Homo sapiens: one gene and its partners. The main gene of each other region encodes a partner of the protein of the gene in region 2 in a complex. Each region holds a gene or a part of one and is shown on either strand. Other genes may lie near its edges. A codon is read from its position in the direction of its gene.

The links. The genes of interacting proteins can lie anywhere in the genome.
Region 1: the proteins of BCCIP (region 2) and TENT5A are in contact, whole or in part, in a crystal structure (PDB 8EXE), measured with the Homo sapiens proteins. Residues at the interface, in NP_510868.1 of Homo sapiens: Val57, Asn58, Ile59, Glu60, Phe61, Glu62, Ala63, Tyr64, Ser65, Leu66, Gln146, Val149, Leu150, Phe152, Cys153, Glu154, Lys155, Asn156, Cys157, Glu158, Lys159, Glu163, Lys167, Leu203, Ala204, Ala206, Thr225; in NP_060103.2 of Homo sapiens: Arg87 (codon at 4,766), Gly88 (codon at 4,769), Asp139 (codon at 4,922), Glu151 (codon at 4,958), Gln155 (codon at 4,970), Lys158 (codon at 4,979), Lys184 (codon at 5,057), Glu185 (codon at 6,178), Val188 (codon at 6,187), Gln189 (codon at 6,190), Lys190 (codon at 6,193), Met191 (codon at 6,196), Val192 (codon at 6,199), Lys193 (codon at 6,202), Val194 (codon at 6,205), Cys195 (codon at 6,208), Asn196 (codon at 6,211), Asp199 (codon at 6,220), Trp201 (codon at 6,226), Asn213 (codon at 6,262), Arg289 (codon at 6,490), Lys295 (codon at 6,508), Glu331 (codon at 6,616), Arg334 (codon at 6,625), Gln341 (codon at 6,646), Asn342 (codon at 6,649), His343 (codon at 6,652).
Region 3: the proteins of BCCIP (region 2) and TENT5C are in contact, whole or in part, in a cryo-EM structure (PDB 8EQB), measured with the Homo sapiens proteins. Residues at the interface, in NP_510868.1 of Homo sapiens: Val57, Asn58, Ile59, Glu60, Phe61, Glu62, Ala63, Tyr64, Ser65, Arg136, Gln146, Cys153, Lys155, Ala204, Gly205; in NP_060179.2 of Homo sapiens: Asp90 (codon at 114), Asp92 (codon at 120), Glu102 (codon at 150), Gln106 (codon at 162), Arg109 (codon at 171), Lys135 (codon at 249), Glu136 (codon at 252), Val139 (codon at 261), Gln140 (codon at 264), Lys141 (codon at 267), Leu142 (codon at 270), Val143 (codon at 273), Lys144 (codon at 276), Val145 (codon at 279), Cys146 (codon at 282), Thr147 (codon at 285), Asn164 (codon at 336).

Annotation. Positions count from the first base shown.
Region 1 is NC_000006.12:81,749,682-81,756,648, reverse strand, and holds the start of TENT5A (terminal nucleotidyltransferase 5A), read left to right. Parts: upstream 1-3,967; 5' UTR 3,968-4,218; intron 4,219-4,470; 5' UTR 4,471-4,507; coding exon 4,508-5,059; intron 5,060-6,177; coding exon 6,178-6,954; 3' UTR 6,955-6,967.
Region 2 is NC_000010.11:125,819,034-125,826,556, forward strand, and holds the start of BCCIP (BRCA2 and CDKN1A-interacting protein), read left to right. Parts: upstream 1-4,512; 5' UTR 4,513-4,524; coding exon 4,525-4,689; intron 4,690-7,523. UniProt on the Homo sapiens protein: During interphase, required for microtubule organizing and anchoring activities. During mitosis, required for the organization and stabilization of the spindle pole.
Region 3 is NC_000001.11:117,623,023-117,628,889, forward strand, and holds the end of TENT5C (terminal nucleotidyltransferase 5C), read left to right. Parts: coding exon 1-1,022; 3' UTR 1,023-5,367; downstream 5,368-5,867. UniProt on the Homo sapiens protein: Catalyzes the transfer of one adenosine molecule from an ATP to an mRNA poly(A) tail bearing a 3'-OH terminal group and enhances mRNA stability and gene expression.

The DNA.
Region 1 (6,967 bases), on a different chromosome or scaffold from region 2:
GACGTGCATGGGTCTGAACCAAGGCTCTGTGATTTCTCTAAGTTACTTAACCTTCTTATGCCCTATCTTTCCTATGGAGATATAATGTGTACAGCTCTGGTTTTTAGAGAAAGTTTAGAAAAAATAATGTATATAAAATATTTAGCAGAGTTTCTGGGATATAATAACAAACTCAATAATAATAACTATCATTAAGGCCGAAGCTGAACATCTTATTTTGCTAAGTCCAGATTGATTGTTACTGTAACTTTAAAAATAAGATGAACTAATTATAAGTGTTTCTTTCTCAAAATTCTATGCAAAGCTTTCCTTTAAAACTTTCAGGATAAGGACTTTTTTTCTGCTCGCTTAGAAAGCAGTTTAAATTTAGGCTGTCCGTATTTCAGTTTTGTGGTGGTCTTAACTTTATCAACTAAGAGCTTCATATTGCCACAGGTGTTTTTTTTTTTCCTTTTAAGTGGGAGAAAGTAAATAATTTATCAAATAGGTTCAGAAGCTAAAGCCTGGGGGAAAAATTTAGCAACTTTGCATCTAAATTTAATCTAAGAGTAACTGTGTTGAGAAATATCTTAGTTGTGAATGTATTTGGAAAGTATAGGCGTTCTCATTTCATAATTATTTTGGTTATCTAGAAAAAAATTATGGTTTCAATAGCAGAATATGCAATTTTATTTAAGGATGGATATTTTTTCCTAGAATGTAAATATTATTTCAGTTTGAAGACAGGAAAAAGTGGGACAGTGAACAACATATGCTTTCATTCAACAGTATGTAATGATTGGTCACTATGTATCAGGCACATATTAATCCAGTCAAAGATTAAATTGCCCACAAAGGCATTGCCAAAAGTAAGATATCCCAGATGTCCCAATGCAGGAGGCAGTAGGGTCTGGATTATGGTTGGGAAAGGGGGAATGTTTTGTTAAAGGTTTAAGGAAGTGTCAGCCACAAAGCATTGGATGCTTGGGGGAGAGGCGGTCTTGGCACACTGCTGCTGGGATTATCTTCTTCTCCCCAGCACAGCATATAGCACGTAAGCGGGCCCTGCAAGTCCAGCTTCATGCTGTGCTTCCACCTCTCAGTTGTGCCCTCCATTTCTGGGAATGGCCATGGGATCAGCCTTTGCTTGGGGGAGGGTCCCCACTTAGAGAACTGGACTATGGTGGCTGTTCTCAGTGCAGCGCAAAGTGTGGCTGGGCCCTTGTGTCAGGATCACCATGACAGCTTGCCAAAATGCAGATTCCTTTGGTGCTACAGAACGAAATCCTGGGTATGCATAGGCAGGTGTCCATCAGCTCTAAGAGTCTTCTTTATTTTCAGTTTTTGGAGCAAGGGTAAAAATAAAGTACAAAATAATTGTAGTAGAGCTAAACACACACACATGCACACACCCTTGGTTTTTAAAGTACAGCGTGTCTAATATACGATCTATTACTTTGGCTTTGTTTTAAGAAGGGGCAGAATTCATACCGGTCTTTGAAAGAAACATTTTTAACAGGTCTTTTTTCTTTTCTTTTTCTTTTCTCTTCTCTTTTCTTCTTTACTCTTCTCTTCCCCCCCTTTTCTTTTCTTTTTCCCTTCCCTTCCCCTCCCTTCCTCCATTTCCTTTTCTTCTTTTCCCCCTCCCCTTCCCTCCCCTCCCCATCGTTCCTTCTTCCTATTTGTGCTTGTCTTGTTTTCCAATAAGAAGGTACTGATAAGCTACAGACCACTCGTTACCCCGTAATGACCACTAAACAGCATTCACAGCCAAATGGGTTGGGTTAAAGGCCTGACCCCACAACTTATTAGTTGTGGAACTTGGGAATGTTTCTTAACTTCTTGGATTCCTCTGTTTCTAGATCCCTAGGAGATGGAAATACCTTCTTCTTGAAGATTAAATTAGGTATTATGTTAAGGAGCTAAACAGGTTATAGCCCAGACGTGTTCAATAAGTTCCTGGTACTCATAAACCTTATCTCAAGGCACTACCAATCTCATTTATTAATCACGGGAGTGTACATATCCTTCCTCAAACATTCTCCAACTCCATACGCTTCCCTTTGTAGATAACGCTCTTCTCCTCTTTCCCCGACTACTGAAAGAACATCCATTCTTTCAAGATCCAGTCCAAATGACACCTTCTCGGGTGTCTCTCCGTTTCCTATGTAGTTAGCCCGCCACGCGATTGCGTCAGAATATACTTCTCTCATAATACATATGCAACTGAACCATAATTATGCACCTAGGTGCTATGCCCTCTAGATTACGTGAAATGTCATTCTTAAATCTTCAGCACTTAGCCTGTTGCCTGGCACGTAACAGGTCACTAAATGCTCTCTCTATACACATGCTCACACAAGAATATGCATATGTATATATATGTATAAAATGCCTGGTTAAGATAGATTCATGCGCCGATGGCTGGTCAGAGGAACACATGGGTGTGCTCTGAAGGAAGCGATGGCCCTATGCGGACAGGGTAGTTGTCCTAGAGTCCCCAGGCGCACCTCAGTGCTTAGGCGCAGCGCTGAGGGGATGGCCTCTGCCACAGAGACAGTCGGATTTCTCCATTTTGGGACGCAGCTCGGCAGGGCACCGGGAGGGGGCGGCGTTGTCACGCAGCTGGATGCTCCACGGGTGACACCCCCGCACCCTACCCCTCACCCCCGAGCCGCGCAGCTTGAGTGACTAGGCCGGGGCTCCCCCAGTTAGGAGGTGCGGGCTGTTTTTCCTCCCAGTCTGGGCGGGCAGGGCTGAGCAGGGTTTGGGGAGTATTCTGTGACCCTGGCATTCTCCCCTCTGCCCCACCTCAGCCCCCGGCAGCGTCTAGGCGCTGGGAAAGCTGCTCCGGGTTAGTTGATGGAGGCAGCGAGCTGCCGAAGAGACGGCCACAGCTTTCTAGCAAAGAGTGGTGGTGGCGCGAGTGAGCGTGCGTAGAATTAGCTCTGCCGAAGTCACCGAAGCTGGAGGAGAGAATTCATTTTATTCTTGAAACTCCTACTTTTACGTCTCGTGGAAAACCAAATCGTATTCCACTGACACTATGATGCACTTAAAATGGCCAAACTTTAGGGGGCCGCGAGGAACGCGCTTCGCCGCCTCCAATTTTGTCAGAGAACTCGCAGCAAAGGCACCGGACACCTAGCGGCCCTTTCCCTGGACTCCGGGGCAGCACGCACTCCCCGGGCGCGCTCTCTGCGCCCACTCGGCCCGCCCAGTCCTCGGCCATTGGCTGCTCGCCCGCGTCTGCTCCGTGACGCGCCCTGACCCCCGCGAAGTACTGGCCCCTTGGAGCCACTCGTGCGCAGGAGCCGCGCACGCCCGAGGCCCGTGGTGCCGCCCCCGCGCCTTCTCGGGCTCGCCCAGAGCTCCCCGGCGCGCTTCCCGAGGTTTCGAGAATCGAAACCCAGTTATCAACAAGCCCTTCCCACTCACGCGCCGTGACTGATTTGCGTGCAAGAGTGGACTCATGAGTCCACACTTGGATCGGGTTTATCAATGGAGTAAATGGTCTACCTAAAAACCGAGGTTTAAAAGAGCGGTCGTGAGGAACCTCCGGAGCCCAACCGTGATGATCTAAAGACGGGCTGAGTCCGCGAGAATTTTGGGAAGTTTCTGCAGTTGCAGGATTTTAGTCGTGATCTGGTTTTGATGACCACTTATGATTCCTGGGGCATTTAAAGTGTCTCCTCCTGGGGAAAATGAAAAGAGATTTGTGGGAGGGGGCGTACATAAATTAAATGTATGTATAAATACACGCATCTACGGGCGCACACAGTATCCGCACATACAGCCCAGGACCTCACGCTCACCGGCAGTCGTCCCGCACTAACTGCTGGGCTAGTCAGCTGCGTGCCCTGCGGGCGGGGGAGGGCAGAGGGGGCGGCGCCCTATGCAGATGAGGAGGGTGTGGCGAACGTGCCGCTCTGGGCCCCGGAAGCGCAGAGAAGCCCGGTATAAAAAAAGTACTGAAGACATTTTCCCCGCACAACTGCTAAAGCTCCAGAGACACGAGCGTGTGTGGCAGCAAGAGCCGCCAGTTCGGGACCACCGCAGCTGGGGTGGCAGCGGCGCAGGAGGGGTCGCGGGGAGGGAGTGGTGAGCGCAGGCGGCAGGGGTCTGGGAAAGACGAAGTCGCTATTTGCTGTCTGAGCGCGCTCGCAGCTCCTGGAAGTGTTGCCGCCTCTCGGTTTCGCTCTCGCTCGCTGCGCTCCTAGAAGGGGCGGCCGCCTCCAGGTGACACAGACGGGACTCTCGCTTGCGCTTTCCAGATGCATCAGAGATACTTTTGGTGCGGGGCTGCTCTGCGGGGCGCGGTGCGCGGCTGGGGACTGTAAGGGCCGGGGGAGGGAGTCTCCGAGGAGGCCCGGGGTCAGGGAACTATCGGGGGAGGGGGCGCTCTTTTCCTGGCGGGCCTCTGCTCTCCGCCGCCGCGCGTGCTCTCCGCCGCCGCGCGTCCTCACCGCGCTCCTTTCCCTTTCTTTTTAGGACTGACCAGGGCCAAGTGGCGCTCGGCGGGCACTACATGGCGGAGGGTGAAGGGTACTTCGCCATGTCTGAGGACGAGCTGGCCTGCAGCCCCTACATCCCCCTAGGCGGCGACTTCGGCGGCGGCGACTTCGGCGGCGGCGACTTCGGCGGCGGCGACTTCGGCGGTGGCGGCAGCTTCGGTGGGCATTGCTTGGACTATTGCGAAAGCCCTACGGCGCACTGCAATGTGCTGAACTGGGAGCAAGTGCAGCGGCTGGACGGCATCCTGAGCGAGACCATTCCGATTCACGGGCGCGGCAACTTCCCCACGCTCGAGCTGCAGCCGAGCCTGATCGTGAAGGTGGTGCGGCGGCGCCTGGCCGAGAAGCGCATTGGCGTCCGCGACGTGCGCCTCAACGGCTCGGCAGCCAGCCATGTCCTGCACCAGGACAGCGGCCTGGGCTACAAGGACCTGGACCTCATCTTCTGCGCCGACCTGCGCGGGGAAGGGGAGTTTCAGACTGTGAAGGACGTCGTGCTGGACTGCCTGTTGGACTTCTTACCCGAGGGGGTGAACAAAGAGAAGATCACACCACTCACGCTCAAGGTAACACCACCCGAGATGCACTTGGGTCCTGACCCAGTCTGGGCCGGGTGTGACGGGGAGCGGGCAGAGGGGCATCGGTTAAATGCCATGAATCTGTGGCCATCACGAGTTTGGGCGCGCGTTATTTCTTTGATTTTTGATTTTTTAAACCAGTAAACTGACGTGCGTGGACGGTGTTGAGTGTTTCAGTTTACTTGATGCTTTGGCGCTACAACTCTTCTCCCAGGTCCTCCTCTGCCCTCTCTTCTCTTCTTTCTCCTTATGTTTTAACTCTTGGCTTTCCCTGTTGGAGTCTTGTCCAGAGTAGATTCTGATACTTGGCAGAATGAAATGATGTAAATAATTTTTGAGTCATTATATTTGAGTCTAGCCTTTGGGAAAATAACAGCCTGAAGCAGAAGTGAGTCAATGAGTTTTTTATTGTACTGGAAAAGGTGAATAGATTTCACAGCGGCATTCAGCTGACTACGTGTTAAAGGTCTATCTGGTGGTTCTTCGTGCTGGTTCATATGTTAAGGGTATAGTGGCACCCCCTCCCCACCCTCCACTTTAGTTCAAGACGGGTTTTATATGATTAGTTAAAATTGTCTGAGGAGGCAGGCTCCTGGAATGTCATAATTTAGTTTATATTTGATTGTAACTGCAGGGTGCCCCTGGAGGGACACACAAGATACTGATAACATTGATTGCCGCAGGCGGAGAGGAATTGGGTGGCTTGGAACAAGGGCGAGAGGCTGACTAACCTACCGCTGAATGCCCTTCCGAGTCTTTTGAATGTTGTTTGGATACTGTGTGAATATTGTGCCTATTAGACCGTTTTCAAAAAGTAACACTTAAAAAGTCAGACATGACAACAAAACCTCTTACTACTGTGCTACGTCTGCCAAAAGCCTCAAACTATTACCTCTAGTCCCTTTCCCAGACAGTAAAACTACTCGTTAAAAGTATTTTTTTTCTATTTTCAGAAGACCGTTTAAGCCTGTAGGTAGTGTTTGGCTGAAACTTGACAAAACAAAAGGGAAAGAGCAAAATAATTCTCAGCTGTGAAGAGGATGTATTTATTTATTGATTTATTATTTTCTAGGTTTGCTCATTTTGTTTTATCTTTTAAATTGTAGGAAGCTTATGTGCAGAAAATGGTTAAAGTGTGCAATGACTCTGACCGATGGAGTCTTATATCCCTGTCAAACAACAGTGGCAAAAATGTGGAACTGAAATTTGTGGATTCCCTCCGGAGGCAGTTTGAATTCAGTGTAGATTCTTTTCAAATCAAATTAGACTCTCTTCTGCTCTTTTATGAATGTTCAGAGAACCCAATGACTGAGACATTTCACCCCACAATAATCGGGGAGAGCGTCTATGGCGATTTCCAGGAAGCCTTTGATCACCTTTGTAACAAGATCATTGCCACCAGGAACCCAGAGGAAATCCGAGGGGGAGGCCTGCTTAAGTACTGCAACCTCTTGGTGAGGGGCTTTAGGCCCGCCTCTGATGAAATCAAGACCCTTCAAAGGTATATGTGTTCCAGGTTTTTCATCGACTTCTCAGACATTGGAGAGCAGCAGAGAAAACTGGAGTCCTATTTGCAGAACCACTTTGTGGGATTGGAAGACCGCAAGTATGAGTATCTCATGACCCTTCATGGAGTGGTAAATGAGAGCACAGTGTGCCTGATGGGACATGAAAGAAGACAGACTTTAAACCTTATCACCATGCTGGCTATCCGGGTGTTAGCTGACCAAAATGTCATTCCTAATGTGGCTAATGTCACTTGCTATTACCAGCCAGCCCCCTATGTAGCAGATGCCAACTTTAGCAATTACTACATTGCACAGGTTCAGCCAGTATTCACGTGCCAGCAACAGACCTACTCCACTTGGCTACCCTGCAATTAAGAATCATTTAAAA
Region 2 (7,523 bases):
GAGTGCAGTGGTGCAATCTCAACTCACTGCAACCTCCGCCTCCCGGGTTCAAGCGATTCTCCTGCCTCAGCCTCCTGAGTAGCTGGGACTACAGGCATGCGCCACCATGCCCAGCTAATTTTTGTATTTTAGTAGAGATGGGGTTTCAGCATGTTGGCCAGGATGGTCTCCATCTCTTAACCTCGTGATCCGGCTGCCTTGGCTTCCCAAAGTGTTGAGATTACAGGTGTGAGCCACTGCACCCGGCCTAAAGTTTTTTAAAATAAACTTCCACTCCTGCTCTGAAGCTTGCCTCGGTCACTTTTTCTGCCTTATGCCCCCAGTTGAATTTTCTTCTGAGGAGACAAGATTGAGGTTGCTGCAGGTGTCTACTGATTTGCCACTGGTAACATATTTGGTGCCACGTGACTCAGATGGTAAGGGATCTCTATGCCTCGCTTTCTTCTGCTGGAGGCATCTGATCCCTGTGCAGTTTTTCTTCTCCTCCCTCTCTCCTGCTTACTAAACAACCCCCAGAACAATTCCTCTTGGCCATACGTGACTCTGCTCTCTGCCAGTTGATTTCTTAGCTCACTCTGGTGGGTGGCTCATGGGAGTGGGAAGGACCCTAGGGTCTGCATCAAGCAGATCAGAGGCACTATATGGCCCTCCTTGATAGGAGGCTTGAGACTGGTGAGGCTAGGGCCTAAAAACCGTGCAGTGTCTGGGGTTTCCTCTGCCTTTTTTTCCAATGAAAATAACGAAACCTGTTATTTCCCATTGAGGGGGAAAAAGGCGGGAGAAGCCCCAGCAGAAATGAAGCTGCTCCTGAAGCTTCCAACATGAAACTCACCTCGGCACTGGTAAAAAGAGGGCTCAACCTGTCTCTAGATTTACAGTCTAATGCTTGCTCTGCCATTTTACCCTCATACTTATGTTCATCAATCATTGATGAAAAAGAAAAGAAAAAAAAAATGACTGGAATAAGGGCACCTTACTGGTAAGAAAGAACCAAACCTCAAACCCGTACCTTCTATGTCATGGTGTTCTGGGTATCAGCAATAACAACAGTCACCCTTTTACTGAGCATTTACTCATGTTAATTACTGGGTGTATTAGAGTTCTTCAGAGAAACAGAACCAATGGCATATATTTACATCTAGAAAGGGATTTGTTATAAGGTATTAGCTCATGCAGTTATGGAGGCTGAGAAGTCCCATGATCTGCTGTCTGCAAGCTGGAGACTTGTTAGCAGGAAGGCTGGTGTTGTAGCCTGAAGGCCTGAGAGCCAAGGGTGTAGGTTCCAGCCTGAGTGTGAAGGCCTCAGCACCAGGAGCACCAAGGGCAGAAGATATCCCAGATCAAGCATGCAGGAGGAGACAGGACACATTCTTCCTTCTTTGGCTTTTTGTTCTATTTAGGCCCTCAACAGACTGGATGCTGCCCACCTACTTTGGGGAGGGCAATCCACTTTACTCAGTCTATCCATTCAAATGCTCATCTTTTCTGAAAACAACTTCACAGACACACCAAGAAATAATGTTTAACCAGATATCTGGGCATCCGTGATCCAGTCAAGATGACATGTAAAAGTAACTATCACACTGGGCTAAGCATTTTACATGCAAGACTGCAATCCTCACTTAAACCTGCAAGGTAGGTGGTGTTAGCCTTATTTGCAGGAGGTGAAACCAAGTCCCTGGGAGGTTTGAGTAACTTGTCCCAGGTCACACAGCACAGTAAGTGGGAGAGATGGAATTTGGATCCTGGTCTGAAGCCCATGCTCAGTCTCCTAACCACTTGCTACCATCCCTCTGCCTCATTAAGATAAATTCTGAGCTAAAGATGAACACTGAACGAGTGGTAAGCAATCTACTACCTGCTGAGTTCAGTTCCCTAGGGTCAGTACTGTATTTACTTTCACATTCACTATTCTAATTCACACTTTGACCATGAGCTCAACACTGGGAACTAATCTGAGGGCATAAAGTAAGGCTTTTTCCCCTACTTGTCTTACAAAAGTGATCCTGTTTACTGTGAAAGATTTGCAAACTACAAAAAAGTATAGTTCCTCAAAAAAATAAACATAGAATTACCATATGATCTAGCAATTCCCCTGCTACATATATACCCCAAAGAATTGAAAGCAGGGACTCGAACAGATATTTGATACTCATGTTCATAGCAACATTATTTACAACAGCTAAAATGTAGAAGTAACCAAAATGTTTACCGACAGATAAGTAGATAAACAAAATGTGGTCTATACATGCAATGGAGTATTATTCAGCCTTAACAAGGAAGGAAATCCTAATGCATGCTACAGCATGGGATAAACTTTGAAGACATCATGCTGAATGAAATAGTCACAAAAGGAAGAATATTGTGTTACTCCACTTACATGAGGTTTCTAGAATAGTCAAATTAATAAAGATGGAAAGTAGAAAGGTCATGGAGGGAAAATAAGGGAGTTGTTTAACTACAGTTTCAATTTTGCTAGATGAAAAGAGTTCTGCCAATGGATAGTGGTGGTGATGGTTGCACAATGTGAATGCACTTCATGCCACTGAACTGTATCTTTAAAAATAGTTAAGATGGTAAAATGTATGTTATGTATCTTTTACCACCATAAAAAAAGTATAAAGAAACAGGAAAAAAAATTGGCTATGGTATCTCAGTGCAACTCTGTTGATATGTTCACATGGTCTTTCTGAGTCTTTTTTCTAATCTTAGCCTTTTGATGGGTCTTTTTTGACAGCTTCCTCTCTTCTCCATTACAGGAACATGTTTTTGCAGTTGTGCGACCCAAAGAGGCCATTTCAAGCTGCCCCATCAGATGTGGAGCGCTGATGTGTAAGTATTACTTTAATATCCATGACATGGCTGGGTAGACAAGAGACTCCCAGGAAAGACCGAAATCACAGAACACGATTATGGGCAATCTGGGCTCCTGGGGACCTTTAGGGCACGCCATCTCGTACTGATGAAGGATCACTGATTTATCAGATGTTACCCTGCTTAAACAGAAGCAGCCTATTAGCGCAGCTCACACCATTCCTAGAATCAAACATATCCAACCCACCCCCCTCATTTTACAGAGAAAAATCAATTGAGAACCGCAGATCTTATTCCTAGAAAGCTGATGAACCCTGTTTCTCTCGCAATGGGAAGACCTGGCTGCCCCAGGCTGCATCCCCACCTGCCACAGGGGCTGGCGCTCGCTCTGCAGTTGGCCGCAGTCCCCTCCACTCTTCTCTCCAAATAGGCTCGGGTCTTTAACCTAGACTACCCCACTGGCCCCGAAGCATTTTTTTTTTTTTTTAGATAGGGTCTACCTCTGTCGCCCAGGCTGGAGTGTGGAGTGCGGTGGCGCGATCTCGGCTCACTGCAACCTCCGTCTCCTGGGGGCATGCGATTCTCCTGCCTTAGCCTCCTGAGTAGCTGGGACTACAGGCGCGCACCACCACACCTGGCTAGTTTTTGTATTTTTAGTAGAGATGGGATTTCGCCATGTTGGGCAGGCTGGTCTCGAACTCCTGACCTCAAGTGATCCACCCATCTCGGCCTCCCAAAGTGCTGGGATTACAGGTGTCCGCCACCACGCCCGGCTAATTTTTGTACTTTTAGCAGAGATGAGGTTTTGCCATGTTGGCCAGGCTGGTCTCGAACTCCTGACCTCTGGTGATCCACCCGCTTTGACCTCCCTAAGTGCTGGGATTACAGGCGCGAGACACCGGGCCCGGCCCCCCGCCGAAGCATTTTTAACTGCGGTGCCGGCTTTAAAAAAACTTTTAGGTCAAGAAATGCGCTCCAGAAGCTCGGCGAGGGTAGGCTGGGCAGGCGCCTTCCGTCACCGGCGCAGCGGTAGCGGCAGCGGACATCCCCGCCTGGGCAGGCCCAGGTCCGCGGAAGCCTCGGGGCCCTGGCCCCACTGTGTCACACACCGCCCGGGGCCGGGCCCCTGCACGCCCGCGGGCTTCGGCGTCCGTACCGGTACAGCGGGCGGCGACACCTACCTCGCGGGACCGTGCCCAGCACCCGGCCTGGCACACAGCGGGCACCCGGTCGGGGGGCGGTGTCGCGCAGTCCCAGCGAAAAGGCTGCAGGAGCAATGACAACAGGGGCGGAAGCCCCCTCCCCACGCAGCCCGAGGGGCCGCGGCGGCCACCCGCGCCGGGCCCCAGGACCCCGCACCTCAGACTGGGGTCGCGTGGGTGGCTGCGCGCAGCTAGGCGCTCGCGCATGCGCACCGCCATCCAGGCCACGGAATGAGGCCAGAGGTTAGATGGGTTGAACCACTACGGGAAGGGGAGGGGAAGCTTTGGGAGGAGTGATGGAGGGTGGAAAGCGGAAGAAAAAAGCAAGATGGGACCGCAAGCTGGACGTGACTGTAAGGGGTCATGGCTGCGGAATCCAGCAGGGGCATTGGGGTTGACGTGCACTCAGCGCCGAGCTTCTTCGTAGTTCCTCACCCCCTTGGCTACTATGGGCTGGTCCGGAAGGTCAGGCAAGGGGAAGCTGCGCAGGCGCAGTGTGAGCGGCAACATGGCGTCCAGGTCTAAGCGGCGTGCCGTGGAAAGTGGGGTTCCGCAGCCGCCGGATCCCCCAGTCCAGCGCGACGAGGAAGAGGAAAAAGAAGTCGAAAATGAGGATGAAGACGATGATGACAGTGACAAGGAAAAGGATGAAGAGGACGAGGTCATTGACGAGGTGAGAAGGACACGCTCCCCTAGTTGGTTTATACCTGAGAAAAACTTTTTGGCAAGCCCAGGCTGTGTAAAAATAGTGTAGGGTCTTCCCTGACCCTGAGGGTCTGTGAGGAGAAACTGGAGATAAGTTCTTTCTCAGGTTTCTCCTCGGTCTTTAACACACTGCAGCCATAGTAGTTATTTTTTAAAGGTCTAGTCCGGTCCAGTTAATCTCCCAACCCGCGTCCTCCCCGAAAAAGCCCGCCACAACAGGTGTGTTCTTCTCGTCCTCTTTAGTTCTCAGGCTGAAGCCTCAGATCCTGAATCGGCCACCCCGGGCTCGCAGAGGGGGCCCTCTCCCCTCGGGGCAGCAGCTGTCCTCCTCTTCACTCTGCGGGCGGCACTCACTTGGGCCCTCAGTTTCTTGAAGGCTCTTGCCGCGTTCTACCGTAGAAGCCTTTTCAAATGCTCTTCTTTATCCTGCAGTTTTCCCTTCCTTCTTCAGATCTCAGCTAGGCTGTATTTTCTGGCTCCTGGGGCAGCTGACCAAGTCGTGGGTAAATCTTTGGTTTCATAGTCTCATAGAACTGTGTTCCTTTCTTCAGACTAGGTCCTACCGTAGTGCCTGGCAATATAGGTACTTATTATTTGTTTAGTAAACAATTAGGACTGAATGATCCTTCAGCCTACTGAATGTTTAAATAGATACCTCAGCCTTAACTTGTCCAAAGCAGAATTTGTATAATAATTCATGCCCCTCTCTTAATCGTCACCATTTCTATAAATGGCCCCTAAAGTCACCAGCTGCTCTAACCCAAAACCTGGGGCTTAACTTTAATTCCTCCCTTTCCTCATCCTATATCCAGCCCATCAGTAAATCCTGTTATCCAGACATTTCTCAGCACTAATTCTGAGACCATCGTAGTCCACACCTCTATCATCTCTTGCCTGGACTACTATTTAATGTAACAGCTTTTAACCGGCGTTCTTTTCTCCATTTTTGTTCCCCTACAATCAGTCTATACTCCACTTACAGTCAGAGAGATCTTATAGGTCTGATCTCAGGCCTCTGCTTAGATTGCTGCATTGGCTTTCTAGTTCATTTACAAGAAAATCAAGAGTCTTCACAATTGAGGGACGGAAAGGCAGCCTAGATGGCTGGATCAGAATAAGGAAGAGAGAGTGATAGGAAATAAAATCAGAGAGGTAATCATGAGTCATGATGAGCATGGAGGGGAGCATGGAGAGAAGCATGGATGCAGGATTAGAGGTGACACCATGGTGTGGGTATGTGATCAATCTTCCTTCCCTTACAAATTTTACTTTGGCTCTATGCCTTGAATGCCATCTCACCATTTTTCACTTAGAACTTTGACTGGCTCTTTTATTACTTTTGGGTTATAGAAATCAATGCTGCTTGTGTTAACATGGGAAATCTATCACACCACCACAGTCTTAATTCTAAATCACCTGGGAATGAGGGACAGGGCTCTTTTCTACAAACGTGACTGTTCCTGCTGAAGCCATGTGGAGATGAGCCCATACCCAGGAAAAGGGTGCTGGACAGATAATCCATTTGCCGCCCATTTCCCTGGTGGTGCCATAATAGTCTGGGACAGAGGTCCGAGATGTCTGTCTAGACAAAGAAAAAAACACTAGATGAGCATTATTTACAGAATGTATTTATATCTAAGGAATAAGTTTAAGTCCTGAATAATGACAGTTTGTTATTTGGTTTAGTTTGATCCTGTTTGGAACACTCCCACCCGACCCCTTGTGTTTTGCTGCTCACATAATCTGGCTAAGTTAGCATTTGAAGTCTGCAAAGCTGGACTTAAAGAGTTCAAATTGGAGCTGGAATTGCTCTAAGCAATTCCAGGGCCTTGCAATTTTACAATTAAGGAAGACTTAAATATATACATAGTCAGGGTGGCAAGGTAAAAGGAGGTCTGATTTCCTCTGCGATGTTCTTCAGCTAAGACCTAAATTCTGAAACCGTTAAAACCTGAAGTGCCTTTAAATATATTATTTCATCAGAGCCCCAGGTTCATTGTGTCACTTATCAAGGTCTGATTTAGGGTCCTCAAGGACTAATCTTGTTAGTGTTTAAAAGCAACTAGGTTTTGTTTTTGGCATTTTAGTTCCATCTTCTAGATTCTGTTGTCTTGCAGATAGAGATCAGGGAGCCCAGCTACACATTCATTCTTCTAGTCCCTTGTACTCATTGTATTTCCTTCTGCCTTAGGGCCTTAGTTTGTGCTGTTCCCTGTACCAGGAACTCTCTTTGCTGTTTCTCGGTTTCTTGCTCAAATGTCACTTCAAGGAAGGCTTTCCTGACTGACTTCTTATTTTTTAAGTTGTTACAACATTGTGTACCTTTGTTTTATAGCACTTACATTTATTTCTATGAATATTTCCTTAATGCCTATATTCCTTCCTAAATCGTAAGCTGCACGAGAGCAGGATCATTTGTGTCTGCCTTACTAACCTTTTCATCTTGAGTGCCTGGCACAGTGCTTGGTACCTGGATTGATACTTAATAAATATTTGCTAAGCAAATGTAGTGTAACCTCAAATCCATGGGCTAAGTCAAGCTCTAGGCAATTCCAGGGACTTTTGAAGTGATTTTGATTTTTGCCCACCCTTGTAATCAGGAAAATAATTTATCCTTTGTGGCTGCCGTGTCTGGTTTATTTGAACTGGACTTTCTCAACATTTAAACTAGGTTACTCTGAGTGTTTTGTTTTCTCAGGCTTTTGTGTCACCTGAAGAAATAGTGTGAAGGTGCTTTGTATTCTTCACAGATGGCAATCTTGGCAATGTTTGCCTGTTTTAAAGTCTAGATGTTTGTAGTTT
Region 3 (5,867 bases), on a different chromosome or scaffold from region 2:
TCCAGACCGTCCGCAGTCGGCTGGAGGAGGCAGGCATCAAAGTGCACGACGTCCGGCTGAATGGCTCCGCAGCTGGCCACGTTTTGGTCAAAGACAATGGCTTGGGCTGCAAAGACCTGGACCTAATCTTCCATGTGGCTCTTCCAACAGAGGCAGAATTTCAGCTGGTTAGAGATGTGGTTCTGTGTTCCCTTCTGAACTTCCTGCCAGAGGGTGTGAACAAGCTCAAAATCAGTCCAGTCACTCTGAAGGAGGCATATGTGCAGAAGCTAGTGAAGGTTTGCACGGACACTGACCGCTGGAGCCTGATCTCCCTCTCCAACAAGAACGGGAAGAACGTGGAGCTGAAGTTTGTCGACTCCATTCGGCGTCAGTTTGAGTTCAGTGTGGACTCTTTCCAAATCATCCTGGATTCTTTGCTTTTCTTCTATGACTGTTCCAATAATCCCATCTCTGAGCACTTCCACCCCACCGTGATTGGGGAGAGCATGTACGGGGACTTTGAGGAAGCTTTTGACCATCTGCAGAACAGACTGATCGCCACCAAGAACCCAGAAGAAATCAGAGGCGGGGGACTTCTCAAGTACAGCAACCTTCTTGTGCGGGACTTCAGGCCCACAGACCAGGAAGAAATCAAAACTCTAGAGCGCTACATGTGCTCCAGGTTCTTCATCGACTTCCCGGACATCCTTGAACAGCAGAGGAAGTTGGAGACTTACCTTCAAAACCACTTCGCTGAAGAAGAGAGAAGCAAGTACGACTACCTCATGATCCTTCGCAGGGTGGTGAACGAGAGCACCGTGTGTCTCATGGGGCATGAACGCAGGCAGACTCTGAACCTCATCTCCCTCCTGGCCTTGCGTGTGCTGGCGGAACAAAACATCATCCCCAGTGCCACCAACGTCACCTGTTACTACCAGCCGGCCCCTTACGTCAGTGATGGCAACTTCAGCAACTACTACGTTGCCCATCCTCCAGTCACCTACAGCCAGCCTTACCCTACCTGGCTGCCCTGTAACTAACCTTGAGACCTGAGGGTTTCCACAGTGGGAACCCCAATAGGGCTAGGGCTCTCAGGTAGGGGAGCCTCCTTCTAGATGTAGGCATTTGGCTTTTAAAGGGGAACTCAGCTCTGATTCTGCTTTTTTTTTTTTTTTTCCTTTGTGTACCCATTGGAATGGGTCTACAGTGTATCATGAGCCAACCCTCAAAGGACCCGTATTACAGTGCCACGTTGGAAAACGCTACAGGAAGCATGACCTATCCACATCTTTCCAAGATAGACACTAACATGTCATGTCCCAAACATTAGCACGTGGGGGTTGAGCTCTGTGCAGTAATCGAGATTGGGAGAATTTGGGCAGCGCGTGAGAAGTGCTAAGCTACTTGTTTTCTCACTTGAGCCCGGGTAGGCTGTGTTGGCCCTCACTTGGGATTCTCAGCAGTTACATGAAAGTTGTGCTGATAATCTCTTCTCTTGTACCAATTTTAGTCAGGCAGAAAATGGTAAACATGAGGGTGCTCTTGTGACTTAATTTTTGTTCAAGGGACTAAATTGCTTATGTTTATTCCCTGTCAGCGGAGTGGAGAATGTCATTCATCAATAAACCAAAGCCAATAGCTGGAGAATTGAGATCTGGTTGAAAGTGGTTTATGGTTTACATGCTGTACTATCCTGAGGAATTGCGAGATATTGCTGAGGGGAAAAAAAAATGACCTTTTCTTGAAATGTAACTTGAAAACAAAATAAAATGTGGAACATAATGTTTAATTAGAATTGTGGTGGTGGTAGTGGAAGGGGATAATTGTAAATAGGAAACATGAATGTTCATTTTTTTCTTTAAAGAATTCTTATTAAATGGCTCCCTGCCTTTTTTTTCTTTTTTCCTCATCAGCTCTTTCATGGCTGAATTTTGTTTTATTCTTCCTAAGACTGAGGATTGTGCTGAGTCCAGAGTCATTGTGGTAACTGACATGAGGGTCTTCCCATGTTTTAACTGGAAACCCACTTTGGTCACATTCCAAGTATGACACAGCTGTTCTTCTGGAGTACTTTAGCTATTTTTTGTTTTTGTTCTTTTCGTTTTTTTTTTTTCCAAAAATAGTGACTTCCTTCTCCAGGTGTGTTTGACAGCAACTCAATTCAGGAATTTCGGTAGAACTGAGTGACCTGTGGAACTGCTTTAGAATCTAACCTGCTGTCTTCGTGCTCTGTGTGAAGGGGAAGCTGGGGGGTTAGCATGAAGTCTGGCCTTGTGTGCATTGGAGCTTCCAAGGCACTTTGAAATCATTCCAGTATATTTGGGAAGAATTGAGTGAATGAGAATGCTCTTCCTTATTCTGGTAGATTTGACTTGTTTATAATTCTGCACTTTAGAAGAAAAACAGTGTTAATCTGTAGTTGAAAGAAAGCTTAGTAGATGAGAGAGTTCTAGGCTACTGTGGCTTTTTCCAGTAGATTTAGATGAGATTATGTGTTTTGAAATGTTTTGTGGGATCCCTTAGAAAGCATCACTTCAGGGCAGAGACACTCAATATTGCCAGCCAGCTTGGGTTCTAAAGTGATTTAATCAAATTCATGCTCCTGATCTTTTTTTTCCCCCTTCCTTTGGCTATGAAAACCCAAAGCCCGGAGTGATTGTTTTCTCCTTGCTTTAAGCAGTGAAGTTATCCTAATGCAAAAGAGCTTAGTAGAAAATGAGTGGTTTACCTTTTTTTCTAAAAGTATATTTTCAAGTTTATTCTGGAATGTGATGTCTTGGTCCTCTTAAAAGCAGATCAGCCATGACTGAAACTCAAGGCTTAGCTGGTATCTATGTTGTGCTACATTAGGTGACTAGAAGCCACTTCTTAGTGTAATCAGCTCCTGTTTCCCTGTGAGCCTTAGTTATATTTTAATTCAGTGGCTTTGAGTCAAGGCCGGTTCTAATTGAGGGGACCCAGTGTGCTTCAGTGTTAAGAGTGGGGCAATGAAGAGTGAACCCCAATGAAGAGTGATCCCAACTTTGGAAACTATCTGGTCATTCATGACCTTAAAAAGCTGCCATGGTGGTCAAATGGCATGTGTTTGCACAAAAATGACCGATGTGTTTAACCAAAGCTTTGAAATGTGATGAAGCCACCAACATAAGCACTTGCCTAACAGAAATCAGTATTTCTTCTACTTAGAAGGCTTGGGGCCCAGGGTAATGAGGCACCAGATGAAGATAAGATCTGCATCAAGGAATTAAATTTCCAGTTTGTCCTTGGGGTTCTTTCTGCTTATGTTTTTTCCCCCCCATCTGGTAATAGTCCTCTTCTGAGAATGAAAGGAGGCACAGAAGTTGCGAGAAAGACCCAGTCCCCAGTCTTTGCCACCATTGCACCATGGTTGTCTCGGAGTCCCTTCACCTGACCTTTTTAGTCAGCTCAGATCTTTTTGTAGTTTGAGAATAGACCTATTCAAGAGCTATCAGGGTTAAAAGCTGCACTGACCAAAGCTGTACTTTTAAAACACAACCCCTGGGCTAGTGATGTCTCTACTTGCTCTATGAGCCTTTTGCCAGCCTCAGAATAGGCGAGGTAACCTTGAATTTCAGGGCCCTGGAAACTCTAGCTGAAACCTGCCTTTCCTAATGCTCACACAAGCACCAGGTACCCTGAGCTTATACTGAGTCCAGTGGTTCCTATTTTATGTGTGTGTGTATGTGTGTGTGTTGAGTAACATGAAACTTGGCAGTAGCAGAGAGCACTGAAGTTCACATGCAAGTTCTAATCTAAAGTTAAGCAGTCTCTTATTTGTTTCGGGACTCTGATTTGACTCTTTTTCTGATGCTTTCGGCATGTCTGCAGCCTGTTCTCCTAGCCTGCTGCTTGGAGTCAGGTTGAGCATCAGTGAGATGAAGACAGTACCTTTTCCTCTCACATTGGCAGAATAGCACGCACTAGATGCCTGACCTTGAGCTCTAGTCTCCCCTTTAAATCTTACCTTGGCAGTAACACATTATTCCTCATTCAATAATTTCAATGCTGAAACTGAACTCTATTACTAATGCCTTCCAATCAGAGTTCCTGATGGGGATGCCTGTGGGATGGCCCACACCTGGGGGACCTGGCAGATGGGGTGAGTTGGGTAAGGAAGATGATGCTTAGTTCCTGATAGATGCTACAGATGTAGTTTGGCATTTCAGTTTTTGTCCAGTTTGATTTTCACTGGGGTTTGAGTCACAGCAAGCTGTGTATGAACTTGTGTTTTGTGGTGACACATTAATAATCAAATTGCTAAAACCCTGAATCTGCTTATTCTTCAGCTTCACCTCTGCACTAACCCCTTACCCTTATGGTACGTCAGGATTTTAACTAGTACTGCTTTGTTGACTTTGGGAAATGGTGCCACTCAAAAGCAACTTCCTAACTTGAGGAATAACTCCTTTGTAGTTTACTTTCTGGTACTGGTTGGTGCCTTGTATTGGGATACAGCTATATTCTTAGCTCAAATGTCCTCTTTTTGAGAGCAAAGTAGTTATCCAATGGTGAGACGAGACCCTGACGCTCATAGAGGCCATTCCTTCCTGGGTGTCGGACCAGGGCTCTGTGTCAGGGAAAACCTTCTGGGTGGACTTTGTAAGAATCCAGTTTCCAAGGTTAGATTCACATCCTTAATCTTGCAGAGACTAGAATTTCACAGCTCGCTTTGGAACATATTCCAATTCAACCAGTTAAAATCAGAGGACCAAGTCGTGGGGGAGGGGGGCGGTGTTGAGGAGAGGTATTTTTAAAGATCTGGCAACTTTTCAGGATTATTTGTGGAGAACTCTAAGGTTAAGATCAGGAAATAAAAGACTGTGTGTGTGTGTGTGTGTGCGTGTGTGTGTTCAAGTGCCTAAATCTTGTTTACCTATCACTTTAAAAAAATAATTGAAGTGTAAGCTAAATAAAATGCTTGGAGTTTTGCCTGGGCTAGTGAGAGTTGGTGCAAATTCTTGTGTGTGTTTGCATAGGAAGGTGAGATGACCATCTACTAAAGAGGAAGTAGCTAAATACAGATCTGTGGGTGTTTTTAAAAAAACTCAACCTATCTGGTGTTTTATTTTAATGGATAAAAATGTAATTTTTCTAAGGTAGCAACTTATTTCCAAATTAATATAGATGAAAAATAGATACCAATTAGACTAAATTGAAAGCTTTTTGTTCTATATTTGCATAGCCTTTGAAATATTTCTTAGTGCCTAGGAGGTCTGGGGATTCCTCTTTCGTGGTGGTCACTAACCTTACTTGATGCAGATAAAATCACTTGTCAATGCAAAATGTGTTAGAACTTGATAAAGCTTTGAGTTTGAGAAATAAAGGTATATTTAAAATTTAAATAAAACTTGTCATTTATGCTCATTGATTTGTTTCTTCTCAATGATGAATTTTAGGTTTTAGGAAACATTGAATAGAAATAGGAAGCTGTCAACATCAGCCTTGGATGCTTCTCTGAAGGACAGATGCTTTTTTGAGGGGGGAGGGCTGTGTGGTTACCTTGGAGACCACAAATCCCTTAATATTTGGGCTCTTTTTCAAGGTGCCCAGCTAACTTAAACTAGGCTTCGTTGTTGACCACAGCCTTTCAGCTAATACCCACGGCAGGTGTAGTCTTGCAGTTCGCCTTTGCTGGCACCTTGTTTAATTCAGTCCCTTTAGCTCCTAGCCCACTTCAACAACAACAAAGAAAACAACTTCAGCCATACATGTACAACTACTGTAGTTTCTTCACATTTTTAAAGAAGTATAGAAGTGAACAAGTGATACTTGGAGTGGTTGATAGATGTTTGAAGGGTATAAAGAGATGCTGTAGACTTTGGTTAGCAACCTTCCTCCTCATTCCTTTGATCTAATTCACAACA